7 linked regions of the Homo sapiens genome follow. The protein of the gene in region 1 interacts with the protein of each later gene in a pairwise test. Each region holds a gene or a part of one and is shown in the gene's direction. Other genes may lie near its edges.

Region 1 (4,723 bases):
ACTGGGGTGTCTTCTGGGTATCAGCGATCTTCATTGAATGCCGGGAGGCGTTTCCTCGCCATGCACATGGTGTTAATTACTCCAGCATAATCTTCTGCTTCCATTTCTTCTCTTCCCTCTTTTAAAATTGTGTTTTCTATGTTGGCTTCTCTGCAGAGAACCAGTGTAAGCTACAACTTAACTTTTGTTGGAACAAATTTTCCAAACCGCCCCTTTGCCCTAGTGGCAGAGACAATTCACAAACACAGCCCTTTAAAAAGGCTTAGGGATCACTAAGGGGATTTCTAGAAGAGCGACCTGTAATCCTAAGTATTTACAAGACGAGGCTAACCTCCAGCGAGCGTGACAGCCCAGGGAGGGTGCGAGGCCTGTTCAAATGCTAGCTCCATAAATAAAGCAATTTCCTCCGGCAGTTTCTGAAAGTAGGAAAGGTTACATTTAAGGTTGCGTTTGTTAGCATTTCAGTGTTTGCCGACCTCAGCTACAGCATCCCTGCAAGGCCTCGGGAGACCCAGAAGTTTCTCGCCCCTTAGATCCAAACTTGAGCAACCCGGAGTCTGGATTCCTGGGAAGTCCTCAGCTGTCCTGCGGTTGTGCCGGGGCCCCAGGTCTGGAGGGGACCAGTGGCCGTGTGGCTTCTACTGCTGGGCTGGAAGTCGGGCCTCCTAGCTCTGCAGTCCGAGGCTTGGAGCCAGGTGCCTGGACCCCGAGGTTGCCCTCCACCCTGTGCGGGCGGGATGTGACCAGATGTTGGCCTCATCTGCCAGACAGAGTGCCGGGGCCCAGGGTCAAGGCCGTTGTGGCTGGTGTGAGGCGCCCGGTGCGCGGCCAGCAGGAGCGCCTGGCTCCATTTCCCACCCTTTCTCGACGGGACCGCCCCGGTGGGTGATTAACAGATTTGGGGTGGTTTGCTCATGGTGGGGACCCCTCGCCGCCTGAGAACCTGCAAAGAGAAATGACGGGCCTGTGTCAAGGAGCCCAAGTCGCGGGGAAGTGTTGCAGGGAGGCACTCCGGGAGGTCCCGCGTGCCCGTCCAGGGAGCAATGCGTCCTCGGGTTCGTCCCCAGCCGCGTCTACGCGCCTCCGTCCTCCCCTTCACGTCCGGCATTCGTGGTGCCCGGAGCCCGACGCCCCGCGTCCGGACCTGGAGGCAGCCCTGGGTCTCCGGATCAGGCCAGCGGCCAAAGGGTCGCCGCACGCACCTGTTCCCAGGGCCTCCACATCATGGCCCCTCCCTCGGGTTACCCCACAGCCTAGGCCGATTCGACCTCTCTCCGCTGGGGCCCTCGCTGGCGTCCCTGCACCCTGGGAGCGCGAGCGGCGCGCGGGCGGGGAAGCGCGGCCCAGACCCCCGGGTCCGCCCGGAGCAGCTGCGCTGTCGGGGCCAGGCCGGGCTCCCAGTGGATTCGCGGGCACAGACGCCCAGGACCGCGCTTCCCACGTGGCGGAGGGACTGGGGACCCGGGCACCCGTCCTGCCCCTTCACCTTCCAGCTCCGCCTCCTCCGCGCGGACCCCGCCCCGTCCCGACCCCTCCCGGGTCCCCGGCCCAGCCCCCTCCGGGCCCTCCCAGCCCCTCCCCTTCCTTTCCGCGGCCCCGCCCTCTCCTCGCGGCGCGAGTTTCAGGCAGCGCTGCGTCCTGCTGCGCACGTGGGAAGCCCTGGCCCCGGCCACCCCCGCGATGCCGCGCGCTCCCCGCTGCCGAGCCGTGCGCTCCCTGCTGCGCAGCCACTACCGCGAGGTGCTGCCGCTGGCCACGTTCGTGCGGCGCCTGGGGCCCCAGGGCTGGCGGCTGGTGCAGCGCGGGGACCCGGCGGCTTTCCGCGCGCTGGTGGCCCAGTGCCTGGTGTGCGTGCCCTGGGACGCACGGCCGCCCCCCGCCGCCCCCTCCTTCCGCCAGGTGGGCCTCCCCGGGGTCGGCGTCCGGCTGGGGTTGAGGGCGGCCGGGGGGAACCAGCGACATGCGGAGAGCAGCGCAGGCGACTCAGGGCGCTTCCCCCGCAGGTGTCCTGCCTGAAGGAGCTGGTGGCCCGAGTGCTGCAGAGGCTGTGCGAGCGCGGCGCGAAGAACGTGCTGGCCTTCGGCTTCGCGCTGCTGGACGGGGCCCGCGGGGGCCCCCCCGAGGCCTTCACCACCAGCGTGCGCAGCTACCTGCCCAACACGGTGACCGACGCACTGCGGGGGAGCGGGGCGTGGGGGCTGCTGCTGCGCCGCGTGGGCGACGACGTGCTGGTTCACCTGCTGGCACGCTGCGCGCTCTTTGTGCTGGTGGCTCCCAGCTGCGCCTACCAGGTGTGCGGGCCGCCGCTGTACCAGCTCGGCGCTGCCACTCAGGCCCGGCCCCCGCCACACGCTAGTGGACCCCGAAGGCGTCTGGGATGCGAACGGGCCTGGAACCATAGCGTCAGGGAGGCCGGGGTCCCCCTGGGCCTGCCAGCCCCGGGTGCGAGGAGGCGCGGGGGCAGTGCCAGCCGAAGTCTGCCGTTGCCCAAGAGGCCCAGGCGTGGCGCTGCCCCTGAGCCGGAGCGGACGCCCGTTGGGCAGGGGTCCTGGGCCCACCCGGGCAGGACGCGTGGACCGAGTGACCGTGGTTTCTGTGTGGTGTCACCTGCCAGACCCGCCGAAGAAGCCACCTCTTTGGAGGGTGCGCTCTCTGGCACGCGCCACTCCCACCCATCCGTGGGCCGCCAGCACCACGCGGGCCCCCCATCCACATCGCGGCCACCACGTCCCTGGGACACGCCTTGTCCCCCGGTGTACGCCGAGACCAAGCACTTCCTCTACTCCTCAGGCGACAAGGAGCAGCTGCGGCCCTCCTTCCTACTCAGCTCTCTGAGGCCCAGCCTGACTGGCGCTCGGAGGCTCGTGGAGACCATCTTTCTGGGTTCCAGGCCCTGGATGCCAGGGACTCCCCGCAGGTTGCCCCGCCTGCCCCAGCGCTACTGGCAAATGCGGCCCCTGTTTCTGGAGCTGCTTGGGAACCACGCGCAGTGCCCCTACGGGGTGCTCCTCAAGACGCACTGCCCGCTGCGAGCTGCGGTCACCCCAGCAGCCGGTGTCTGTGCCCGGGAGAAGCCCCAGGGCTCTGTGGCGGCCCCCGAGGAGGAGGACACAGACCCCCGTCGCCTGGTGCAGCTGCTCCGCCAGCACAGCAGCCCCTGGCAGGTGTACGGCTTCGTGCGGGCCTGCCTGCGCCGGCTGGTGCCCCCAGGCCTCTGGGGCTCCAGGCACAACGAACGCCGCTTCCTCAGGAACACCAAGAAGTTCATCTCCCTGGGGAAGCATGCCAAGCTCTCGCTGCAGGAGCTGACGTGGAAGATGAGCGTGCGGGACTGCGCTTGGCTGCGCAGGAGCCCAGGTGAGGAGGTGGTGGCCGTCGAGGGCCCAGGCCCCAGAGCTGAATGCAGTAGGGGCTCAGAAAAGGGGGCAGGCAGAGCCCTGGTCCTCCTGTCTCCATCGTCACGTGGGCACACGTGGCTTTTCGCTCAGGACGTCGAGTGGACACGGTGATCTCTGCCTCTGCTCTCCCTCCTGTCCAGTTTGCATAAACTTACGAGGTTCACCTTCACGTTTTGATGGACACGCGGTTTCCAGGCGCCGAGGCCAGAGCAGTGAACAGAGGAGGCTGGGCGCGGCAGTGGAGCCGGGTTGCCGGCAATGGGGAGAAGTGTCTGGAAGCACAGACGCTCTGGCGAGGGTGCCTGCAGGTTACCTATAATCCTCTTCGCAATTTCAAGGGTGGGAATGAGAGGTGGGGACGAGAACCCCCTCTTCCTGGGGGTGGGAGGTAAGGGTTTTGCAGGTGCACGTGGTCAGCCAATATGCAGGTTTGTGTTTAAGATTTAATTGTGTGTTGACGGCCAGGTGCGGTGGCTCACGCCGGTAATCCCAGCACTTTGGGAAGCTGAGGCAGGTGGATCACCTGAGGTCAGGAGTTTGAGACCAGCCTGACCAACATGGTGAAACCCTATCTGTACTAAAAATACAAAAATTAGCTGGGCATGGTGGTGTGTGCCTGTAATCCCAGCTACTTGGGAGGCTGAGGCAGGAGAATCACTTGAACCCAGGAGGCGGAGGCTGCAGTGAGCTGAGATTGTGCCATTGTACTCCAGCCTGGGCGACAAGAGTGAAACTCTGTCTTTAAAAAAAAAAAGTGTTCGTTGATTGTGCCAGGACAGGGTAGAGGGAGGGAGATAAGACTGTTCTCCAGCACAGATCCTGGTCCCATCTTTAGGTATGAAGAGGGCCACATGGGAGCAGAGGACAGCAGATGGCTCCACCTGCTGAGGAAGGGACAGTGTTTGTGGGTGTTCAGGGGATGGTGCTGCTGGGCCCTGCCGTGTCCCCACCCTGTTTTTCTGGATTTGATGTTGAGGAACCTCCGCTCCAGCCCCCTTTTGGCTCCCAGTGCTCCCAGGCCCTACCGTGGCAGCTAGAAGAAGTCCCGATTTCACCCCCTCCCCACAAACTCCCAAGACATGTAAGACTTCCGGCCATGCAGACAAGGAGGGTGACCTTCTTGGGGCTCTTTTTTTTCTTTTTTTCTTTTTATGGTGGCAAAAGTCATATAACATGAGATTGGCACTCCTAACACCGTTTTCTGTGTACAGTGCAGAATTGCTAACTCGGCGGTGTTTACAGCAGGTTGCTTGAAATGCTGCGTCTTGCGTGACTGGAAGTCCCTACCCATCGAACGGCAGCTGCCTCACACCTGCTGCGGCTCA
Region 2 (3,978 bases), on another chromosome or scaffold:
ATTGTTATTCAACAGAAATCAACTAACTTTGCATATCAGTAAAATACACACACATACTCTTAGCTATTTTCTGAGTGCTCTGGAACTGATATCAAAATAGCAAATATATATTTATGAGAAGTAGAAATGCTGTATTCTTTTCAGTCACATAAACTCAGTGTAATTATGAAATTAACTTAACTTTGAGAAGATATGAAAAATGTTACTTCTTAACCAAGTAAAGATCTAATAAAAACTACAAATTTTATATCAAGTTACATCATTTTTACATGCACATTTGTACCCCAAATACCATGCCATTAATTAATTTTTCACTGTTCATTTCTAGATGGAAGACTGTATTTGAAAACTACTGTCATGTACTGAATCTTTCCTGTTGAAGAAATCCATGTTATAGAAAAGAACTTTGCAGTCAGACATTCGTCATGGGAAAGTTCAGAAAAAAATAAAGTCCTTTTAAGGGAACTTCCTGAATTTTGTGTATTAATGTTCTTTAAAAGTTTAAGTATTCTACAAAAAAAAAAAAAGTTTTCTCCATTGATTTTCACCTGTGGTTCATACCAGAGACCTGAGAATGTTTGTAAATGTACAAGTATCAAAGTTCTTACAGTTAATTACTGCAACTTGCTGCTGGACAATTGTATACAGAGTTAAAGGCAGGTCTGAATAAGACCTAGCTTTGTTTTTTTCTAATGGAATGAACCATTTTCCTCTTCTGAAAATTCTGTATCTGAGCACATCAAGAGACTCTTGTAGCAGTGGTTACCCAGACTTACAGAATTATGTCCTCCAGAAACCAGCAAGAACACTTGGAATGAACGAATGAACTTGTAGGGGGCATAGAGGATTCTTGAAAAAAAAAAATGCAAGAGTGATTTTCTGTTACATTCAATTTCAAACTCTCTAATTGTGGGTTTTCTCCTGAAGAATTTTTTTTCACATACTTTCCAAAAGACCAACAAATGGATGTTGACAACAACCCAATGAAATAACATTTTGCATATCTGAAAAGAAGCATTGAATATAAGCCAAAAGCTTTCACTGAAGGTTTTTTTTTCTTAAAAATAAAAAAAAATATATAAGTGTAACATGTTTTCATTCCAAACTGGTAGTGGTATGTAGAATTAAAGATAATAATGTTGCTTCTTATTCAAACTGTTGGTCATATGTACAGTATATAAACATAAAACACACAAGGAAGGTATTATGTATGCAGTAGTATACTAGAGTTTAGGAAAATGAAAATTTTAGAAAATATGTTTTGTCACCCTGTTGGTCAGAAAGATGTCTTTCTGGTTTTAACGCATGCAGGCATGTAAATATTTGTCTGGAGTCACAGTATTAATGAATGAGATCTTAAGCATCTGGTGACATCAGAACTCTGTGTCAGCCACTTTTATTTGTATATTGAACCCTAGCTAGTGCCCCAAGCTGCACTATTGGGAATGGATTGTGGCTGAACAGCAAATCAAAACACCAGAAATATTTTTATATGTTAACGTCATATTATGTTAATGTTGCTGAAAACAAAACCTAACAAACCTTGATGTACCAGTCCAATACCATGTAGCGCTGAGTGATAAAGTTAAAATGTGCTGTGCTTCCCACCCTTGTCAGAGGGAAGGGTGGCTATGTGTTATTTTCACTGTCTTTTTGAAAGTTACAGTATGTGTTTTCACTTTCGTGCAGATAACTGGAAGTAAAGCGGCAAACAGTGCTTATTACATGCTAAAGTTACCTTCTCTTTGTTTTTTGCATATCTGGAATTACACCTTTAAAGACTGATATGAATCAGTACGGTCACTATACATTTTATGATTTTTCTGTCATCTTAAAATTGTATGATCGTAACATTATTTATTACCACAAAACAGCAAAATCTTCAATGTCTAAGAAAACTAGCTTAAAATGTTTAAATATAGTTCTGATTGGGTATTAATTACTTGATTAAGAAAAAATTAACATTATAGATACTCTGGCATTACGCTTCTATACCTTTTAGGTCTTCCTTGCAATACTGGAACATAATTCTTTTGTGTAGCTCACTATTAGCCAGCTAAGTTCATCTTTTTAATACCATAAAAAGGTTATATGTACAGTTCCTATTTTAGCTTGCTTACAAAGGGAGCATTATTTTTATTTAAAGTATTGCTAGTAAATGATTTGTAGAAACTTGGTTTTCTAAGCATAGTTCTTCCATAACCACCTTTTGTTGTTTGAGCACAAGGGATTCTTTTCCTAGTTCTATGTGTTTGTTTCCCTATATGCAGTCTTTAAAGGATTACAACACTTAAAATTGAATGGACTTGTGTCAAGCTTTTTGCATCATACATTTTTTGAAAGATTTTTAAAAAAGCCTACAACTTACATATGTAGTAGAATCAGCCATTGCTCTGCTCCTGGCATAGAGTCACCTGTTTGTTATGTGGATTAAATAGTTTTAAAATACATATTTGAAGACCTTTGAGAATGCTTTAGTGTTTGATTTGAAATAAAAGGAAATTTTAGCAAGGATTAAAGAAAAAAGCTATCAGCTGTATGTTAAGAGAGACTCTTACTAACATGTTGTAAATATTACAATTCATGAAATGTTATTGTAAGTCTGTAACTTAATTTTTTCCCTGTTTTAGTTATACAGGTTGGTTTGGAAATTTGTGTTTTGGCATAAACAAGTAAAATGTGCCCATTTTATGGTTTCCATGCTTTTGTAATCCTAAAAATATTAATGTCTAGTTGTTCTATATTATAACCACATTTGCGCTCTATGCAAGCCCTTGGAACAGAACATACTCATCTTCATGTAGGACCTATGAAAATTGTCTATTTTTATCTATATATTTAAAGTTTTCTAAAAATGATAAAAGGTTATTACGAATTTTGTTGTACAAAATCTGTACAAAAATCTGTTTTTACATCATAATGCAAGAATTGGAAATTTTTCTATGGTAGCCTAGTTATTTGAGCCTGGTTTCAATGTGAGAACCACGTTTACTGTTATTGTATTTAATTTTCTTTTCCTTTTCAACAATCTCCTAATAAAACTGTCTGAAATCTCCCTGTGACTTTATTTACAGTTCATCTTTATTAAATTTTGTGAAATGCATAGCATTGAAGGAATATTTACTTTCTAATGGGAGGCATCTAAAAACAACACAAGTCAGCTCTTTGCAATGCAAGGGGAACAATGCTCAATGATTTTATTTAACATGCAACTGCTTCTATCTCTAATATGAATTACTGTGGTGAAAAACATCATAAAAGCACACTCTGTAGTTATTGTTTAACAAGCAGATTTTCCATATTTTGTTTCTTGCCAGCTAAGCAAACTGCCCACATATACATGATTTATTTATGTACATTTCTCAGTTTATGAAGCTGTTATTTGTACCTTTTTTCTTTATATTCTTATATTCCCATGATTCTTATTTCACAAAGCTTTGTGCTGAATAATGCAAAGTAGACATGTTGATGGAACAAAATATATTATTCCCATATCTATGAGTGGAGATTTGTAACTCTAACTCAGTGTTTTGCTTTTGATCTCTATCTTTGGAAAAAAAATGCCTTTAGAAACTTTGAAATTACAATATCCTTTAATAATACATAAACACTTTAATCAATCAAAAGTGCAGCATTTGAAGAACTATCGGGTTGCTATCTCTGTGAATATTCTAAACATTCCCAAGAGAAAGGAAAATGAATTTTTCTGTCTAAAGGTATGATTTTAATGAATTCTTGAAACAGTATATTAAATTATGATTTTTTTCCTTAATAAAACCTAAAACGTTTATGATGTGACCATTACAAGCACATTTTTGTCTTCTGTCATCATATGTTTATGTCAGTAAGACTAGCACTAGAACATCATGCAGTCTCTGGATGTTAGTGAAACTCAGTGATAATTTAGGTTTGCCCCCATGTGTTTTCATTGAGACTAGCAAATTTATAATGTTCACAAAAGCTATTTATTACTAGAGG
Region 3 (4,108 bases), on another chromosome or scaffold:
TGTCCTCCAGTATTGAGAACAAGACATTCACTCTCACCACTGTTACTCAGCATTGTACTGGAAGTCATTGCCAGGCACAGGTTTGTAGGTTTCAGCCATTTTTGGCTATTTGACGTTGACAAGTTACTTAACCTTTCATGGGTTTTAGTTTCTTCAGGTTAAAAAGACTGGGGGGCGCTGTGGGAAAGAGAGTGATAATCTACCATGCAGGATTGTTGTGAGGGTTCAAGAAGATGTTTAAGCACCTAACATAGTTACTTGTATATGGTAGTCATACAGTAGATTAGATAGTTTTAATTTGTTCAGTGTGTGTGTGTGTGTGTGTGTGTGTGTGTGTCTTCTGTGACGATAGCCTCTTTCCTTAAACTAAATGAACATCTTAGTGAATTTTCCTATTCTGGAGAAGGAAAAGGAAGAAATAGGGGAAAGATAGGCATTTGACTACCTTTCATTTGGATAATTGAAAATTATTAGTTCTCTCCAGTAAGGTAATGGAATATATATAATTACCTGATAATAAAAATTTATTTCTGAAAACAATTCAGAATCTCTCATCTTGTACAGATTGAGTATCCCTTATCCCCAAATCCAAAATGCTCCAAAATCTGAAACTTTTGAGCACCAACATGACACTCAAAGGAAATGTTCATTGGAGCATTTCAGATTTTGGATTTTCAGATTCGGGATGCTCTAACTAGTAAATACATTGCAAATATTCCAAAATCTGAAATCCAAAACACTTTTGGTCCCAAGCATTTCTGATGAGGGATACTCAGCCTTGTAATACTTATGCAGTATTTTGTTGATAGGATTTTAGTAGGAAATAATTATAAGTATGCCAATCAAACACTTAATTTGGTCTTCAAAGCTGGTTACAATAGTACAGTGGCATCTGGACAGAGATGATTTTTTCACAATTTTTTTGTACAGGATATATTGATTTGTCAAAAAGAAGAGTTTCTCCAGAGGAAGCAATCAAATGTGAAGACAAATTCACAAAATCCAAAACTGTAAGTTGATCTTTGAGTCAAATTAGTCCACTATCTGTGTGTTTAATAAATAATTTGAAATCTTAATTTCATACTGCTACTACCTTAAAGTATTGCTTATGATCTAATATTCTCAAATTAGTACTAGAAGTGTTTTGAAGCCGTTTTAGGTTAAATTAACTGTGGGTGACTTCAACTGCTTTAACTTGTTTACAGTTGGAATGCCTCATAAAATACGGGGTTTTTTTGTTTGTTTAAATAGAAATGAGGTCTTTCTATTTTGTCCAGGTTGGTCTCAGACCCTGAGCTTCAAGTGATCCTTGAGCCTCAGCCCTCCAAAGTGCTGGGATTACAGAAGTGAGCCAATGCACTTGGCCAAAATACAGTTCTTGATTTTCAACCCTGTTCTGGGATGAGGGTAACGGAGACAACCAGCTGTTATATGTTAAGAATGAACAGGGGTTTATAAAATGTCTGTGAATCCAGGAAAGCAAGGCAGAGGCCTGTTACTAGTTTTGGTTTTTTTCCCCCTCCACTAGCGTGTTAGGATTATTTCTTTTTGCATTCTTATTTTTGCTATTACTTCCTGCTTGTCATCCACAGTAAGCAGCAGCAAAGCAAAGATAGCCATTTAATTTCTTCTGTCAGTATTTCTCTTTTCTCAGGTCCTGTTTAAGTTATCCTTCATCCTCTACATCCTCAGTTCTGTGTGTGTGTGTGTGTGTGTGTGTGTGTGTGTGTGTGTGTGTGTGTGTGTCACAAAGTCTTTCCCAGACTGGAGTGTAGTGGCGCAATCTCAACTTACTGCAACCACCTCCTCCTGGGCTCAAGCGATCCTCTCGCCTCTGCCTCCCGGAATGTTTGAGATTACAGGCGTAAGCCAGTGTGCCCAGCCTATCCTCAGTTCTTAGTGGTACTGTTTGTATTGCTTCTGTTTTCTTTGCCCTTCTCTGGTGTCTGTTCTTTTCTGCCATGAGTGTTTCTGTCCTCAAGATAAAATATCAAAAAAAAAAAAAAGTTTCAATGAAGAGATTTTAAAAAATCTTGCTTAATCCCAGTAAGAGAGAAAATAAAGGTCTAAAAGCCATCAGTTACCCAAATCATTTCCTTTGTTTTACTGATGTATTTACAGTTATGCAGTGTGGTTTACACATTTGAAAACACTGTCAGTAAAATATCTTCTTAATAAACTCTAGGACCTTACCACTTAGAATGTAGTCTCTAAACTAGCAGCATTGACATCACCTGTTTTTTTAGAAATACAGACTCTCAGGTCCTACTAACTTTTGAGAAGCACTTTTCTGGGAAAATTTCATATTTTTTTGTCTCCTTAGGATATTGTTAAAATGAGTGTGTTAATAGATCTTATTGAGATGTTAAAATGGAAGAGTTATTCAGTGTCAGTACCTTTTCTCACTCAATTTTTATGTGTAACTATGATGAAGACCTTAATACTTTTTGTCTACACCCTGTTAATTTTAGGAGGTAAGAAAAAGTTTGGCAGGTGGGTAAGATGACAGAAAAAAAATTTTTTTTATCGTGATTCTCTCCTCAGGGAGTAATAATAACAACTTGTATTTGTATAGCCGTTTTCCATTTATAGTGTGTGGTTTCTATATATTTGATCTATGCGAGCACTCTGTAGTAAGGAGAGATGCTAGTTTCTTCTTTTTCCAGAGGAGGAAACAAGTTCAGAGATACTGTGTTACTGTCAAGACTTGATCCAGGTCTTAGGACCCTAAATTGTATACTATCTCTACTTTTTATACCCACTTAAAGTGAGTATTTCCCTATGGAGATCTTTTATTGTTAAGGAATTATTGTAGCCAAATTATGTTATTTACTAAAATGTAAAAACATTTTTTATAAATCTCTTATCTTTGAATTGTTGAGCTTTTCATTTTATTTCTAGGTTTATAGCATTCTTCGTCATGTTGCTGAGGTGTTAGAATACACCAAGGATGAGCAGCTGGAAAGCCTATTCCAGAGGACTGCCTGGGTCTTTGATGACAAGTACAAGAGACCTGGATATGGTGCCTATGATGCATTTAAGCATGCAGTCTCGTAAGAATACCTTCTTGACTCTCCTTCTACCTTGATATCACAACTCTTGGCCTGATATTTAACAGCATAGCATCCATGTATAAAATACTTGCCAAATTTAGATTAAAATATTTTGTATTGGCCAGTAAATGGGCCAATCCTATATGGTCAAGTCTGTGTAGTTTTATGTATCATAGTTATGTAGATTCATAAACCATATGGTTTATCTCACACATTTTCCTTTCCTAGTTATTGTCCTAAGTGGCTATGGGACTAAAGAGCATGTCTCACCAAAAACTATAACCTCTTGTTTTCTCTACCTCTTTTGACTCTCCTTTGACTTTCAGCCCACACCACTTTAGCCAGTCTTCCATGTAGCCTTAGCCTGGGCCTTACTATCACCGGGATTTGCTCTGCCACTAAAATCTTTAATTCACACTTTCTGTTCTTTTGCCCCTGCCTCCTATTCATCTAGCTCCCAGTTGGTCCTATTATTTGTCATCTTAATTCTGTATGTTAGGATCTGATTCCAAACCTTTTTTCTCCCTGTCTTTTCGCCATTTCCTGCCTTTTCTCTCTTATCCAACATAGGCACACCATGATACATCATTTTAACGACTTTGTTGCCATTATTGTGAGCTTTTGCCTTGTTTTTCCTTCCATCCATCCAGCCTTGGATCAATGTTCCTGCCTTCTCTGTACTTGTAGACTGCTGGGTGCTACTAGGAAAAATCAGTCTTGCAGGTTGGTCCACTGCATATTCATGGTCTCCAGCCTCAGCTGTTCCACATTCTCTCTGCTCCTGGTCAGTTCTTCAGTAGTGGCTATTTTAGAGCTTTTCCACGTTCTTCCTCAGAAAACCACTCTATCCCTGCTCCCTGCCTCTTGGCTGGTATGCTCACTACCTATTTTATTTTATAAAGAAAATAGAAACCATTGCACAAGAACTACTTTTCCACTGTCTCAACAAACTTACATATCTCTGTCCCACCTGTCATTTCTTCCTATGCTGCTGTCACTGGAATTTGTGTCCTAATTGCTCTCAAACTAGTCTTGCCACCTATGCCCAGCTGCTG
Region 4 (4,108 bases), on another chromosome or scaffold:
AAGAATGCTTTTTTTTTCTTTTTTTAATAGAGACAGGGTCTCACTATATTGCCTAGGCAGGTCTCCAATTCCTGGGCTCAAGCGTTCCTCCTGCCTTGGCCTCCCAAAGTGCTGGGATTACAGGCATGAGCCACTGCACCCAGCCCTTAAAAGAGTGGTTTATGTGTATATATTTGACTCTAACGCTTTGAAAAATAGAATATTTTAATGTGGTTATTTCTGTTTGATTAGTCATTTTACCATTGTCATACAACTGTACAAATTTTACTTTGAGATAGTTAAAACTAGAAAATGTGGCCATTTTAACATTAGTTCTATCTTGAAGTTATTTCCAATGTAGAATTTGGAACATAGCATTACTGGCCTGTTTTTAAATGTATGAAGAGAGCAAAGATCAGAGTATGTTATTCACTATCTTTTTTTTTTTTTTTCTTTTTTTGAGACAAGATTTCATTCTGTTGCCGAGGCTGGAGTGCAGTGGAGTGATCTTGGCTCACTGCACCCTCCGCCTCCTGGGCTCAAATGATCCTTCCACGTCAGCCTCCTAAGTAGCTGGGACTATAGGTGCCTGCCACCAGGCCCGGCTAATTTTTGTATTTTTAGTAGAGACAGGGTTTCACCATTTTGCCCAGGCTGGTCTTCAACTCCTGAGCTCAGGCAAGCCACCCACCTTGGCCTCCCAAAGTGCTGGGATTACAGGCGTGAGCCACCTTGCCCAGCCCTTCACTAACTTTTTTTTTTGTGTGTGTGAGATGGAGTTCACTCTTGTTGCTTAGGCTGGAGTGTAGTGGCACTGTCGGCTCACTGCAACCTCCGCCTCCCGGGTTCACGCGATTCTCCTGCCTCAGCCTCTGGAGTAGCTGGGATTACAGGCACCCGCCACCATGCCTGGCTAATTTTTTATATTTTTTAGACCAGCTGGCCAGGCTGGTCTCGAACTCCTGACCTCGGTGATCCACCCTCCTTGGCCTCCCAAAGTGCTGGGATTACAGGTGTGAGCCACCACACCCAGCCCTTCACTAGCTTTTAAAATTACATGGTGTTTTGTTTTGTTTTGTTTTGTTTTGTTTTGTTTTGTTTTGTTTGGAGACATTCTCGCTCTGTTGCCCAGGCTGAAGTAACAGTGGCGCTATCTTGGCTCACTGCAACCTCCGCCCCCTGGGTTCAAACGATTCTCCTGCCTCACCCTCCCGAGTAACTGGGATTACAGGCATGCATCACCACGCCCAGCTAATTTTTTGTATTTTTAGTAGAGACAGGATTTCACCATGTTGGCCAGGCTGGTCTCGAACTCCTGACCTCAGGTGATGCATCCGCCTTGGCCTTCCAAAGTGCTGGGATTACGGGCATGAGCCACCACGCCTGACCTAAAATCATGTTTACTTTGCCAGTTATTTGTTACAGTATTGTGGTTTAAAGTCTTGGATTACAGGTTATTTAGGACAGTGATTCCTAACCAGAAGCATATTCAAGTTAGTTGGGGGGTGGGAGGGGCAGATGTTTTCTAAACTTTTTCTTTTTTCTTTTTTTTTTTTGAGATGGAGTTTTGCTCTTGTTGCCTGTGCTGGAGTGCAATGGCGTGATCTCGGCTCACTGCAACCTCTGCCTCCAGGGTTCAAGCAATTCTCCTGCCTCAGCTCCTGAGTAGCTGGGATTACAGGCATGTGCCACCACGCCCGGCTAATTTTGTATTTTTAGTAGAGATGGGTTTCTCCATGTTGGTCAGGCTGATCTCGAACTCTGACCTCAGGTGATCTGCCCTCCTTGGCCTCCCAAAGTGCTGGGATTACAGGCGTGAGCTGCCGCACCTTAAACTTTTTCTTTTCTTCAGAAAGAATTTGCTCTTATGGTGAGCACTGTTAATGATGGGAATATCATATTCCGTGGATTTGTTGGGATAAGGAAAAATGATATACTATTGGAGGGAGTAGATAAAAATACATGGTATTGGGTGATGTTTTGAACTTGGTAATAAAAATTTATGCAAAACTATAATGGAATCATAATTTTGCATGATAAACAATGAAGTTGTGATTGGTGCCTTAACAAATGAACCCTATGCAACGTTAAGTTTCTCATAGTGGTCAACACAACTTTTTTTTGTTTCTTTGAGACACAGTCTCCTGTCTCCCATGCTAGAGTGCAGTGGCGCGATTTTGGCCATTCTGAAGTTCAAGCGATTCTCCTGCCTCAGCCTCCCGAGTACTGGGACTACAGGCATGCTCCACCATGCCTGGCTAATTTTTGTATTTTCAGTAGAGACATGGTTACACCATGTTGGCCAGGCTGGTCTTGAACTCCTGGCCTCAAGTGATCCTCCCGCCTTGGCCTCCCAAAATGCTGGGATTACAGGTGTGAGCCACCGTGTCCAACCACAACTGTTTAATAGAGCCCATGTTCAATCACTCAGTGATATGCAAAGATTATAACTGTTTACCAAAAGGTACTAATGTATTGATAGGCTATTGGTAGCAAATCCTTAGCTCAGTGCCCAGGAGCGAAACTGAGGGTGTTTGGTTTAAAGAAAATAATTATCCATCACATTAGAACTGTCTGTAATCTTATTCCAGACTAGGGGAGAATCTGGGCATAGCATATGGAAGTATAAATTTAAGAAACACAACATTGGCTGACTTTGATGAACTAACTTATATATAGCTTCCAGAGCTTCTGTTTGGTTTTTATTTAATCCTTGCAGTAATTCCTGAAAGGTAGGTGTCATGCCTCCATGATATGATAAAAGGTATGCTAAGTTCTATTCCTGGCTGTGTCATAACATATGGGTAAGCAGGACTTTTTTTATATTCTTAGATTTCTCATCTGTAAAATGACTAGGTGGACTCAGTACCCAAGATCCCAAGATCCTGTCAATTCAATATAAACTTGCTCTAGGAAGTTTTTTGTTTTTTTTTTGCAGCATAGATGTAACTGGAGGAACTTTTAAGATAGCATTTGTCAAACAGTAAAGGGCAGCATCCAGGGAGATATTTGAGCTCTAAGGCTAACTGAATCACCTGCTATCTTTGGAAAGAAGCAGGGCTCCCCAAATAGCAAATGACTTGTTTGGTGACAATTGCAGATTGAGATTATACTAAAATAATGGATCCTTAGGCCTGTGCTTTGTTTCTGTAAAAAGAGGAAAGGATCATATTCTATAGTTAAGACCTGAGAATTATATTTGGAAATAAATGGTTTAGTATTAAATAATGAAACCAGTGTGTGTTTGTGGATAGTTCTATTAGTAGTGAATCCATGGCCTCCTTTCCATATACAGGTTGGTTTGAAAATTGGAGTATAAGGATTTTAGGATTTGTAGAAACACGGCTATTGTTTTGATTTGCTCTAAGTGCTAGTTGCTGAAACAAAGCATAGAGGAACAGTTCTTTTATATTCCAAAATTTGAACCCTGGTTGCTGACAGACATCCTAGAGGATTACCTTCTTGTATGTTATTAAGAGTTACATATTGTGGGAATTATGGAAATTAAAAATGTGGTTTAGGAGAAGATAGGCTGAGGATTTTACATAAGAGGGTAGTTTTTAAACAAGGTAGTGTTTTTAAGAAATGTGTATTTTAGTATTCGTAAAGCCAGTTCTAGATTGTATTACTGATAAATGATCATTTAAGAGTTCATAAGTATGAATTCCATATTCCTTACTTGTCTCTAATTAGCAAACACTGAATTCCTGGTCTCTACCAAGTTGCTTAGTTACATAGGAAACTAGGGTACCCTCATCCTTGAATAATCTTTCTCTAAAAGATTACAAGGTTAATTTTCTCAATTAAAATCATAAATTTAAAATACTTTTATGTAATATCAGCTCTCTACCAGGTATAAAACTTGAAAACCTTTTCACAGGGAGAATGAAGTTGAAGAGGTAAAAGAGGAGGGTCCAAAAGAGATGACTTTGGATGAGTGGAAGGCTATTCAAAATAAGGACCGGGCAAAAGTAGAATTTAATATCCGAAAACCAAATGAAGGTGCTGATGGGCAGTGGAAGAAGGGATTTGTTCTTCATAAATCAAAGAGTGAAGAGGTAAAATTAAGTTTTGTCGTGTTTGAAAATGTTCAGATGTGACTTGAATTGTATTTATAATTTTTGTTTTA
Region 5 (4,108 bases), on another chromosome or scaffold:
GATTGGTCTAGAAGTCAAGAGTTATCAGTTCTGTTTCTACTTCTACCACGCACAAGTTATCAAGCTCAGTCATATCATTTATTCACTGAACCTCTGTAAGATAGAGATAACAATATTTGCCTTCCCTATTTATCTAATAAGGTTGTTTTAAAACCAAATAAGGGCATATAAGGAAAGTATTTTGCCAATTGTAAAGTGATATGAAAATTAAGGTTAGTATTATTCCTGACCCTATTTCCAAAGCTATAGATTACTACAGTACATTCTAGTCAGTGGAGGTCAAAGTAGGTAAGATGTTTTACTTATAATTGTATTAGTGATTGCTCCCATAATTTCTTCAGGTTGCCTATCACTATTAAGTTTCAGTTAGATTACTTTGTGGCATAGACAACTTGGTAACTTTTTAATTGCTTATCTCACCAAAAGAAGTTTAAAAGGGGTATTAAGTCCATTTATTGCCATTACATCTATAGCAAACAGACAGATGCTGCTAACAGTCTTAGCAGTACCTGGTGAAAAAAAATTGTGGTTAAAAAAATATAATTTTTAAAAATATAATTTTTAAAAGATGCAAAATGCATCTACATAAACACATGACAGTATCGTAAATCCTCCAATACGGAAGGTAAGTTGTGTAAGTAAATAGTAAAGACTCTATAATTTTTAAAAGATGCAAAATGCAACTACATAAACACATGATGGTATCGTAAATCCTCCAATACGGAAGGTAAGTTGTGTAAGTAAATAGTAAAGACTCAGGCTGAGCGTGGTGGCTCATATCTGTAATCCCAGCACTTTGGGAGGTCAAGGAGGGTGGATCACGAGGTGGTGAGTTCGAGGCTAGCATGGCCAACATGGAGAAACCCCATCTCTACTAAAAATATAAAAAAAATTAGCCGGGCATGGTGGTGGGCACCTATAATCCCAGCTACTGGGGAGGCTGAGGCAGGAGAATCACTTGAACCCGGGAGGCAGAGGTTGCAGTGAGCCGAGACTGTGCCGTTGCACTCCAGCCCAGGCGACAATGTGAGACTCCATCTCAAAAATTAATAAAGACTCAATATTAAAGTAGACTGTGAGGAAAAGGTAGATCAGAAATTAAATTGAATAATATGTTTGATTTATTTTCATGTTTCTCTCTTTTATTCTTATGATAGTCTCTCTACTATTTTTCAGCTAATGATGCTGGCTACTTTAATGATGAAATGGCACCAATTGAAGTGAAGACAAAGAAAGGAAAACAGACAATGCAGGTAGACGAGCATGCTCGGCCCCAAACCACCCTGGAACAGTTACAGAAACTTCCTCCAGTATTCAAGAAAGATGGAACTGTTACTGCAGGGAATGCATCGGTTGGTATCACCACACAGATTAGCTTGAATTCTTCCTGGTGTGTTCAACAAAAGTAATCATGAAGTATCTTGTAAATACTTTTTATGCCAGTCTTTAGTTGTTTAGCTTAAACTAATAGTGTTCATATTCAATTAATTTAGGTTTTCATAGACCCACACAAAATCTTTTCATATTTATTTATATAATACTCTTCTGATTTCTTAATTTTTTCAGAACTAAGAAATTTCAGAAACAAATCTATCTGGCTTATTTTGGTTTTCAAACTTTTTTTTTTCTCATGCATACAGTTTATCGTATTTCTTCTTACATCTACTCACATCTAGATAAAAGTTTTTCCTTGACACCCTTTTCCTTGTTCTTTAGTAAAGTTGTATTCTGTGCCTTAAAAAATCTCCTTCATCCACCACAGTACCACTTTTCTAATTGTATCTCACACTGTGCACTGGCTTCCTATGTACTGCCATATTCCTAATACTACTAGTCCATTAGTTCAAACTTTGATTAACTGGATTATTTTAGCCTTTAGTTAATCTAGTATTTTTATTTTCAAGGGTGTAGCTGATGGTGCTGGAGCTGTTATCATAGCTAGTGAAGATGCTGTTAAGAAACATAACTTCACACCACTGGCAAGAATTGTGGGCTACTTTGTATCTGGATGTGATCCCTCTATCATGGGTATTGGTAAGTTTATAGTAAAACAAACTGGTTCTATAATATTTCTGGAGGTAAGTCTTCTTTGGCATTCAGAGTCCTGAAAAAGTGGCCAAACCAAGGTCACCTGTAGAGAAAAGAAGATTGGTAATCAGTTTAAATAAAAAATCTTTATGAAGAACTGTCCTAGACACAATAGAAAAACCAAGACCGTGTAAACTCCATGGAGGAAGTAATCATATCTTAGTGTCCATTTGAGATTTAAAAAATCAACACACAGTAATTATATCTTATTGTTCCTTTGAGAGTTTAGAAATCAACACAGAAAATAACAGAAGAATTACGTGATCCTGACAAGATAAAAGAAATTATGAGATGGGAGAAATCCTGGGGTGAAACAGAGAAGGCTGTATGGAGAAGGTGGTATCGCAGCTCCTTGCTGGTTGTTTTACACACATTCAGTCTTCCCACGTCTCCAGTAAGGGAGACTTCTTTGTGAATGAGAAAATTGAGGCTTAGGGAGGTTGTCTTACAAGGTTCCAAATCAGTAAGTGACAGCCAGGGTGTGAATCCAAGTCTCTCTGAAATCAAGTGCTCTCTTCACTGTGAGTTAAACGCATAGTCTCAGGAAGTCAAATTAATATTCCTCTTGCTCAGGTGAGTATTAGCAAAATAAAGACTTATAATTAGATTGGTAAAATGCTAGATGGAAAAAATTTGGAAGTCCATAAACATGTATAGTCTTGGCTTAAAATATTTGATTTAGAAGTAGAACAAAGAGCTTTTTGCTGGATGCACTCCTAGGAACCACACACGATGCTGAATTTTAATAGTTCCTGTCATTCTCTGGGGGAACAGGGAACCAATTAGGTGCCTTACTTAGAAAAATAAAATTTGGTGCTCAGTAACTTTGATATATCCCACCTACATATAACCTCCCACTGTAAGGAAAAGCCTGCCCTAGGGTATAGATTTCAGATTGTTTAGCCCTTTTTTGAATAACTAAATTGTTTTCTGAGGTGGGTTCCAAGAGAGGAGGAGGAGGATAACCTGTTACTGACCTGCCATCTCAGAGATCCTTCAGTGTAAGCCTACAGGTTCTACTCAAACAATACCACTTACACTGACTTGGGATTAATACTCAACCATATTTGCTGCCATGTCCCTCAGAGAAGACATATCTCTGTATAGAGTTCCTAAGAAAAAAAGCTGGCATGTTCATATTTTGTCATCTTTCACTATGTGTCTCAAATTTATGTCAGCAAGAACTGCAAGATATTTTGACACATATGAAAAGTCAATCTTAAGCTTATTAGCTTTTGGCTATCCACTATTGGCAAAAGATAACTTTTGTCTTAGAAATGGAAGGTGGTGGAAAAATTAAACATCCGTATGTTGTTATGGCATTTATTATTTTGATATCTAGGGTAGTGGTTCCCAACCTCAGATGATTGTCAGAATCCACTCATAACCCCCACACCCTTAGATTTTGTTTCAGTAAGTCCAGAGTGGAGCCCAAGAGCAGAGTTGGTTTTGTTTTTTGTTTTTGACACAGAGTCTCGCTTTGTCACCCAGGCTGGAGTGCAGTGGCGTGATCTCAGCTCACTGCAACCTCATTCTTCCCAGTAGCTGGGATTACAGGTGCCCGCCCCCACGCCTGGCTAATTTTTGTATTTTTAGCAGAGACAGGGTTTTTCCACGTTGGCCAGGCTGATCTCAAACTACTGACCTCAGGTGATCCGCCCACCTCAGCCTCCCAAAGTGCTAGGATTACAGGCGTGAGCCACCATGCCCAGCCCAAGAGCAGAGTTGGTTTTTTTCCTGCATACACCTAGATGCTTTTGATGATCAAACAAATGTATGTGACATGGGTTGGCTATTTTATACTCCTTTTTCAGTTTAACTTTATTTAATAGGTTCTGGTAGATTAGCATAGCCAGTGAACCAAGAAAGCGTTGTTTTCCTTCCTTCTGTTCCTGGGCCTGAATATTTGCCCTAAAGTACAAAGAATGCTCCTGTGGTAGGATTGTCATTTTTCCTCGGGGCTTGAACAGAGCTGTACATTCCAGATGTCCCACAGTATCAGCTGCCCCCTTCATCTAGA
Region 6 (4,108 bases), on another chromosome or scaffold:
TTCTTCATCCTAAATTAAAACATAGATTCCCAAGCCCTGCTCTGAGAATTCTGCTGAGGCGCTGACACACAGGGAGTTTTCAAAACAGCTGCCCCTGAACACACACAGACCCCTTGCTTTGATCTGGAGGCTGCTTTTCTCTCGCAAGAAGTGCAAAAGCAGCAGACAAGCTTGCCTGCTCCCAGCCGGCACCCGTAACCCATTGGTGTTTTCTCTTCACAGTGAAAGAAGCCGGAAGAGATTTTACCTATTTAATAGTGGTGCTTTTTGGAATCAGCATTACAGGTTGCAAAAAACAGCAAGTATAAGCCCTTGAATATTTTTTAAACTGGACTTTTTATGTTGCCCTTGCTTCGCTTCATCTTTGTTTTCTGTGATTTCAGGTGGCTTGTTTTACACGATTTTCAAAGAACTTTTTTCTTCATCCAGTCCTAGCAAGATATATGGGAGAGCCTTAGAAAAATGCAGATCACATCCTGAGGTTAGTTCTCAAGATTGAGTTACATGAACTCTGATGAGGGGGAGAAAATGTCTGGGAGGAGGAAGTGGGCAGAATTCAAGAACCAGTTCTCACGCTAGTGAAATTCACATAATAATACATAATGGTCGAGTCATCATTACATTATTAGGTCTTTGCTCTTTAAGAGAACCCAAAAGTCAGTGTACAGATGTTTTCATGCTAATTGTACAAGACAGTCATTTTGCTGGTTGTTCATAGATACTAAATTTTTAGAATACACCAAAATATTGAACTCATGGTAAGTTTCTAGTCTTTTTAAAGCCTGATGCATGACCTCATGGTCATAATGTCATTGCTGACACTTACCGAAAATGTGTCCGTGCAAGCACTCTGCCCAGGGTCTCAGTGCATCATCTTTATTCAGTCTCACAAAAACCATTTGTGTTCGGCACTACTTTGTCTTCAGTTTGCAGAAGGGGAGACTGACACTTAAAGAGATTAAGTAACTTCACCAGGATCACTGAGCTAGTAAGTGGGGGAACCGGAACCCGAATCCACACAAATCCAAAATTTGCTTCCAAATCTAAGCTCTTAAGCACAGTCTGCCTCTACCCTTCCCTGGGAGGAGTGGACATGGGGAAGCTGCCTTGGTTCTTTGAAGGACCCTGTCAAGAAGGAAGGCTTTAGATGTGACCTTCCAGTCACACGTAGCCGGTGTGGCCTGGGAAGTGTCAGATTTCTTACTCCCTGCTGCAGACCTTCAGCACTGAAAATATTACTCATTGAAATACAACTTCATTCACCCTGAAAGATAACAGCAGGTAATCGTCTGCCATTATCATCATAAATATTAGGGCTGTTCTTCACACAGACCAAGGAGTAATGTCATAGCTCGCATTTGCAGCCCCTGAAGAGGAGAAAGATTTCAATCCACAGCGTGCTCAGTATAGAGCCCGGTGCTGATCTTCCCTGGGGCCCCGGCTCTGAATGTTCTACCAGTTTTCTAATCATGTCAGGGTGGAAACCTCAGAAGCTAACGATCTCTGGCATCTTTCCTTTTAAATCCACTGATTTCTCTTCATTGAGCTCTGGACAGCCAGTGGTAACCATGGAGAAAGGCAGGGAGGATAAAGTATCTCAGAGGTGAAAACCAGGAAATAAGGAAGGTTCGTTCCCATAATAGTTACTGGGAATCCAAATTTTATCTGACAAGAAACATTCTTTACAGACTCCGGAAATACCTGTGGGTGGTAACCTCATTAAATGTTAGGACGCATCTCTGGAAAGAGATGAAGAGTTGCTGTTTTATTCGCAAACTCAGCCTTTCGTAGATTTTTCAGCATTTTGAACAAAAAACTCCACAAGAATATACAAAAGTGGGATATTATTGAAGTCGTAACTTCATTTGCTGCCTGAAAAAACTCTACAAATAATAATTAAACTTTAACAATTTTGTCAACATTTTTTAAGGGGTACCCTTCTCTTTGCTGGGTACTGTGTCTGCTTGAAAAACAAAATCTTGATGGATGTTGATATTTATATGTTTAATAGATTAAAGTAAATTGTTCTATTTGTTTGTGCTATACAATTCTGCAATATCATCTTACATATTACTTCTTTTTATCCTGGAAAATGTGATACTGAAGATACTCCACAAACAGACAAAATAAGATAAATTTCGTAGAGTTGAGGGTCAAACTTTTTTAGTTTAATATCAAATTTATATTTTTTAGAGGGTTCCACAGTATTTGCATTTTGAATTCAATAAAAACTACATTTCTACTTCATGTGGATTTTCTCATTAGAAATAGTAGATTCACACCTGTAGCTCTGATTTATTTTAAATGTCATTATCTGTTTTCTTTTTCCTCACTGTGTTTGGTAACTTTAAAAATTTTTTGATCTCATAGTTTTAGTATTAGATGCTATTAATTAATTACATTTCATTAAAAATGTTCATACATTTTATCTTCAAACCATAAGGGGTTAGTAGAGAAACATCTGAACTCTGTGTTGTTATGTTTGTTTTCTGTAAGAGGAGCAGGAACTGCGTCATGTCAACCTACATTGCTTTGAAACTACAAGTCACACCATAAAGCTACCTATTTTAATCTTTGTGCATGAAATATTTGTTTAAATTATTTATGGGATGATTTTTGTATAATAACCCTTTTTTCAGTTTTCTTATTGGAGTGGTCATTTTTTTATTTGTTTGTTTGTTTGTTTGTTTTGAGACGGAGTCTCGCTCTGTCACCCAGGCTGGAGTTCAGTGGCACGATCTTGGCTCACTGCAGCCTCTGCCTACTGGGTTCAAGCGATTCTCCTGCCTCAGCTTCCTGAGTAGCTGGGACTACAGATGCGCATCACCATGCCCAGCTGATTTTTATATTTTTTAGTAGAGACGGGGTTTCACCTAGTTGGCCAGGCTAGTCTTGAACTCCTGACCTTGTGATCCACCCATCTTGGCCTCCCAGATTGCTGGGATTATAGGCGTGAGCCAGGAGTGGTCATTTTTGAAAAGGTCCTAAGCTTACTGATTTTTTTTTCCTAAAATCATCTGGTTTGTTAAAAATTATTTCTTTAGAAGCTTAAAAAAATAACACAAAATAAAGCACTGTCCTTGTTCTGCAGGTGATCGGTGTCTTTGGTGAGTCTGTTAAAGGCTATGGGGAGGTGACAAGGCGGGGTCGCCGGCAGCATGTCAGGTACTGTGGCTTGAATTCAGAGGAGGCTCTGGGGAGATTTTTAAATGAAAGGAACTTAGACTGATCTTTCGTTTTCTCGACAGGTTCACTGAATATGTAAAAGATGGGCTGAAACACACGTGTGTGAAATTCTACATTGAGGGCTCTGAGCCAGGGAAGCAAGGAACGGTGTATGCGCAAGTGAAAGAGGTGTGGGAATCATGGGATGTGGGGTCAGAGGTTCTGAGCGCGGTGTTATTTAAGTTCTGGAAAGGAAAATAATACCTGGAAACACTACATTTTTTTCAGAACCCAGGAAGTGGTGAATATGATTTTCGATATATATTTGTAGAAATTGAATCTTATCCTAGAAGAACTATTATCATTGAAGATAATCGATCCCAAGATGATTAAAATAGGGTTTCTGATGGATGTTGAATGGCGTGGACTCGCTACTCCGTTCTTCACAGCTGCCTTCCAGAATGTGTTCAAAAGAAAGACAAGAAGGAGTGTATGGCTTATAAAGTGAATCTAATACAGTATTTGTTGCATTTAAACAAACTAGACATTTTCTTACGGAAAAATTATGAAATACAGCATATTTTATGTTCTCCCATTGACTCAATCATGACAATATTTCTGCTTTAACACCATCTTTCATGATTAGAAATGTTTGTTATTGGAAATGTTACACCATGTAAATAAAGGAAATAGATTTTAGTATTGTATTCATTTTATATTATAGAACTGCATAATGTCTGCAGAATAAAATTAAAACTAACAAATATGTCATTAGCAGCTGCCCTCCGCATACTTTGGAATCTGACTTGAGATAAGCATGTGAAAATGGTTGAGGGCCATAGGGAACCAGATGGTAAATACATTCTTCAAAATTGTGTGAGTTTTAGGAATCTGTCTCATATTTCGCGCTTCATGAATTAAGGGCCTAGTACATAGCGGGAAA
Region 7 (4,108 bases), on another chromosome or scaffold:
TTTGCTTGCAAATGTTCATCCAGTATGAAAGAGAGAATAAAAATATTAGGATAAAATAATTTTTTTAAGTGAGGAGATAGGCAGTCACACATTCTTTTGTGACACAAACCAGTTCTACAGTAGAATAATGAAGGCATTGTTCAGCAGTTTGAAGGTTTGATTTATAAAACTAGGTGTTAACTGATTGGCAATCAACCAATAGAAGGTAAATTGCTAAACTAGTCTGCATGTGCAGATGCTAGTAAGAAATTTTCAAAGGCACAGCTGCACTTTTATACAAAGTTCCCTGATCATCTACAGGTACTTCCCCACATGTGGTCATGACCTTTGATGACACCCATTCAGGATATCAGTCGCCAGTTTGTTTATAAAATGATTCAGATGTACTTAATTAGATTATTCAGAGTTTCTGTGGGAGTGCAGGAATGTCCTGTATTTCTTGTCCCTTTCTCCCATAACTTCTACCTCCCTACAAAGGCCTAAATGCTCTGCTTTTGATGGAGGCGTGCAACTTCAGATAAGCTCCGGTAAGAATATAGGTGTTTTTGATAGGCTAAAATGGAAAGCACAAATTTCTGAAACCCCAGGAAAAAGGTGCAAACTCTACATACACTGTGCAATCTGCATGAAATCCACCATAGGAGAATTGAGTAGTGATTAAGTCTGGTTTGAAAATTCTGCATCAAATTCACAGAGTTTTACTTTCAACCCATTTGGGTGAAAGAAATAATGTCCTTACAACATCTCTTCCACTTCTTTCCTTCTTTCTTACTCTTCTCCATTGGTTACTCTTTAATCATTCAGCATCTTCCTTTTTATTTATCTCACACTGTGCCTGGGACACAGAGTAAACTTTTGTACTTCCAGCCCCTTCATCCCACCCTTTTAATATAGTTCAACGAATATTTATAAATTTCCTAGACTGTGGTAGTTAGTGCTTTTCTGAGCACTGAAGATACATCATTGAACAATAGACACACACAAACACACACACATACACACACACACACACACACGCGCATGCATGCACCAAAAAAAATAAAAGATTAACTGAAAGCTTAAACTACATATTGGAAAAGAAACATTTTTGAGAAAAATTCAATACTGAAAGAAAAGATATTCTTCAAAAGTATAAAAAACAACCTAGATTATTGCAGGAGATCATACAAACTGGTTTGTTTTTTATTTAAATTCTACAGCCACATGGTTCATAACAGTATTTCAGTTTAGTTTTAACTTGCATTTTTTTTTAGTTTTGGGTAATATTAAGAATATTTTACTGTGTTTAGAAGTCTTTTATATATTTCCTTAGGATAAACTATCAGCTCATATTCTTTGCCCAATTTTCTAATGGGCAATTGTTTTTTTCTCATTGATTTATATGAGTTGAAAAATATTTTTTCCAGTTCGTTGATTATCTTCATTATGACATTGCTTAGCGGTTTTGCATTGCAGAAGTTATTTATTTTTATGCAATCACATTTGTCCAACTATTTGTTAATGGTTTAATGATGTAGGAAGAGGACCTTCCCCTCTAAGATTATAAAAGAATGTTCCATGGTTTCTTCTAGTTCTGTTCTAGTTTCATTTTTCTAAAAATAAATCTTTAGCTGGGCACAGTGGCTCATGCCTGTAATCCCAGGACTTTGGGAGGCTGAGGTGGGCGGATCACCTGACATCAGGAGTTCGAGACCAGCCTGACCAACATGGAGAAACCCTGTCTCTACTAAAAATACAAAATTAGCCAGGCATGGTGGCACATGCCTATAATCCCAGCTACTCTGGAGGCTGAGGCAGGAGAATCACTTGAACCTGGGAGGCGGAGGTTGCAGTGAGCCAAGATCACAGCATTGCACTCCAGCCTGGGCAACGAGAACGAAACTCTGTCTCACAAAATAAATAAATAAAATAAATCTTTAATTTATTTTGAATTTACCTTGGGGTGGAGTATAAGGTATAAATTTATTTTTTTCTTTCAGGTAACTCTTGAGTTGCCCCAACGTTGAAACCACCTTTGCAAAAATTCTAACTGAAGAAATTATGACAGTGAAAGAGATCAGAACTAACTGACTCCATCTGGCTTCTAACCTTTAAGCTGTCCTTGTTCATTCCTGGTTGCAGGCAGAACTAACCTTGGGAAGGAATTTAGTTTATGGTTTGGCTCTGAAACAAAATTGATAATGTCCCTTTTCCCAAAAAGACCCACTTCTTGCCTGGGGACCAGTCTGCCTTTGTAGGACTAACAGATTAACTACAGGATTAGATATTACATTTTAGGGGTCATGCAGCCTCTGGCTACAAGAGTCTGACCTTCCCCAGATTGCTCCTATGGATAGCATTACTATTATAAAACCTAAGATCAGTGCTTGAGATATTTTGCAGACCCTGCACTGGATGGATCAGCTGACACCACCCAGATTGGTAATCTGGCTTAACCACTTCTGCGATCCCCTCTATAATTCTATCTCCAACCTGACCAATCAGCACTTCCCACTTTCGAGCTCCTATTTTAATTTAAATTATCTTTAAGAACTCTGATCTTCGTGCTCTGGGAAACTGATTTGTGTAATAATAATACTCGTGTCTCCCATACAGCCAGCTCTGCCTGAATTACTCCTTCTCCATTGCAATCCCCCTGTCATGATAAATTGGCTCTGTCTAGGCAGCAGGCAAGGTGAATCCATTGGGCAGTTACAAATTTGGGGGCTCGACCAGGATTGCCTTTGTTGTTACCTGCTCTGTAGCCCACCTCTGGTGATGGATCTGGAGGCCAACCCAAGTGGCCACCTAGTTCTCTTGGACTAGGGGCTGACTCTGGCACTCTCTGCCAGTGGGGTGCTGCTGACCCAATGTGCATGGATTCAATTGCAGTGGAGAAGTAATGCTAGGGAGATATCTCATAACTGTAGCCTCATCACTGGGTGTCTGTAGCTGTAGCCTCAATGCAAGGTGTCTGATTTGGTGAGTATTCCAGGCAGCTACCAACAGCCCCTTCCTTCTCCTGATTTATTGGCCTCTCTGGAGGTGCTGCTGTCTCTTAGTAACCTCCCAGGGTGTCTGTCTGTAGCCCTATCACAAGGTATCTGCCTGTAGCTCCATTACAAGGTGTCTGTAGCTGTAGCCCCATTACAGAGTGTCTGTCTGTAGCCCCATTAGGGGTTGTCTAATTGGATGGAGACTAAGGAACTTGTTTGGAGGACTACTCTTGGTTTGAGACTGGGTCTGGAATCTGTGTCTTGAAGGCCTTCTGTTCATCTTACATTGTTTGCGTGTGTGTGTGTGTGTGTGTGTGTGTGTGTGTGTGTGTGTGTGTTTATATGTATGGAGGGCCCTGAAGGAATTGCTCACAGCAGTTTTCTGGGGGCAGGGGACAGAGTCTCACTCTGTTGCCCAGGCTGGAGTGCAGTGGTGCAATCTCAGCTCACTACAATCTCCACCTCCCAAGTTCAAGCAATTATCATGCCTCAGCCTCAGAGTAGCTGGGACTATAGGCGTGCGCCTCCATGCCCAGCCCTGAGTTATCATTTTGGGTAAATGAATGACTTATGGTGACACGGGACTCTATTTTGTGATATCCAGTGTTTTAAATCTTTGATATTTGACAAACCTTCCAAGATCAAATTATAAGTTTAAAAAAAAAAATTAGATATCCTGAAGTTCAAAAAGATATATTAGGCTTATTTAATGTATTAAAATCATGCAGGAAACATTGTCAAATATAAAATGGTGTTTAACTTTCTTTGAGTTATACTCATATAAATATGTTATTAGTATGTGTTATAAAATTGTATAAGATTTCTATAATTCTAATATGCCTCAGTATATGTTATCAGTAATAATTATAATTGTTATGTTGAATTTTTGTGTGCCACAGAGGTAACAAATTTCCTTGTCAATTTCTTTGACTGCGGCTTCCCTAAAACATTTCTGTCATCTGCAGACAATTGTTGTCTTGATTTGGTCCTCTTTAGGAGATGGTTTTATAATCAGCTATAAAACTTTGACAGGTGCTCTTGAATGCAAGTTTCTGATAACCTTGGAGATTATGACATTAAAATAAAGGAAAAAACTTTCGGGACTCTCATAAAGAGCTGAAATGTTCTTTCAT

The links.
Region 2: the proteins of TERT (region 1) and DACH1 come close enough for resonance energy transfer, tested with the Homo sapiens proteins (one large-scale study listed by BioGRID).
Region 3: the proteins of TERT (region 1) and EIF2S1 interact in a two-hybrid assay, tested with the Homo sapiens proteins (one study listed by BioGRID).
Region 4: the proteins of TERT (region 1) and SERBP1 interact in a two-hybrid assay, tested with the Homo sapiens proteins (one study listed by BioGRID).
Region 5: the proteins of TERT (region 1) and ACAA2 interact in a two-hybrid assay, tested with the Homo sapiens proteins (one study listed by BioGRID).
Region 6: the proteins of TERT (region 1) and TIMM21 interact in a two-hybrid assay, tested with the Homo sapiens proteins (one study listed by BioGRID).
Region 7: the proteins of TERT (region 1) and STEAP4 interact in a two-hybrid assay, tested with the Homo sapiens proteins (one study listed by BioGRID).

What each region holds. Positions count from the first base shown.
Region 1 is NC_000005.10:1,291,947-1,296,669, reverse strand, and holds the start of TERT (telomerase reverse transcriptase), read left to right. Parts: upstream 1-1,601; 5' UTR 1,602-1,680; coding exon 1,681-1,899; intron 1,900-2,003; coding exon 2,004-3,357; intron 3,358-4,723. UniProt on the Homo sapiens protein: Telomerase is a ribonucleoprotein enzyme essential for the replication of chromosome termini in most eukaryotes. Active in progenitor and cancer cells. Inactive, or very low activity, in normal somatic cells.
Region 2 is NC_000013.11:71,437,043-71,441,020, reverse strand, and holds the end of DACH1 (dachshund homolog 1), read left to right. Parts: intron 1-328; coding exon 329-366; 3' UTR 367-3,055; downstream 3,056-3,978. UniProt on the Homo sapiens protein: Transcription factor that is involved in regulation of organogenesis. Seems to be a regulator of SIX1, SIX6 and probably SIX5.
Region 3 is NC_000014.9:67,373,538-67,377,645, forward strand, and holds part of EIF2S1 (eukaryotic translation initiation factor 2 subunit 1), read left to right. Parts: intron 1-930; coding exon 931-1,010; intron 1,011-2,901; coding exon 2,902-3,053; intron 3,054-4,108. UniProt on the Homo sapiens protein: Member of the eIF2 complex that functions in the early steps of protein synthesis by forming a ternary complex with GTP and initiator tRNA. This complex binds to a 40S ribosomal subunit, followed by mRNA binding to form a 43S pre-initiation complex (43S PIC).
Region 4 is NC_000001.11:67,419,938-67,424,045, reverse strand, and holds part of SERBP1 (SERPINE1 mRNA-binding protein 1), read left to right. Parts: intron 1-3,859; coding exon 3,860-4,037; intron 4,038-4,108. UniProt on the Homo sapiens protein: Ribosome-binding protein that promotes ribosome hibernation, a process during which ribosomes are stabilized in an inactive state and preserved from proteasomal degradation.
Region 5 is NC_000018.10:49,789,396-49,793,503, reverse strand, and holds part of ACAA2 (3-ketoacyl-CoA thiolase, mitochondrial), read left to right. Parts: intron 1-1,176; coding exon 1,177-1,352; intron 1,353-1,904; coding exon 1,905-2,034; intron 2,035-4,108. UniProt on the Homo sapiens protein: In the production of energy from fats, this is one of the enzymes that catalyzes the last step of the mitochondrial beta-oxidation pathway, an aerobic process breaking down fatty acids into acetyl-CoA.
Region 6 is NC_000018.10:74,154,923-74,159,030, forward strand, and holds part of TIMM21 (mitochondrial import inner membrane translocase subunit Tim21 precursor), read left to right. Parts: intron 1-222; coding exon 223-285; coding exon of another isoform or gene 286-302; intron 303-383; coding exon 384-481; intron 482-3,091; coding exon 3,092-3,165; intron 3,166-3,248; coding exon 3,249-3,354; intron 3,355-3,453; coding exon 3,454-3,558; 3' UTR 3,559-4,108. UniProt on the Homo sapiens protein: Participates in the translocation of transit peptide-containing proteins across the mitochondrial inner membrane.
Region 7 is NC_000007.14:88,285,970-88,290,077, reverse strand, and holds part of STEAP4 (metalloreductase STEAP4), read left to right. Parts: intron 1-4,108.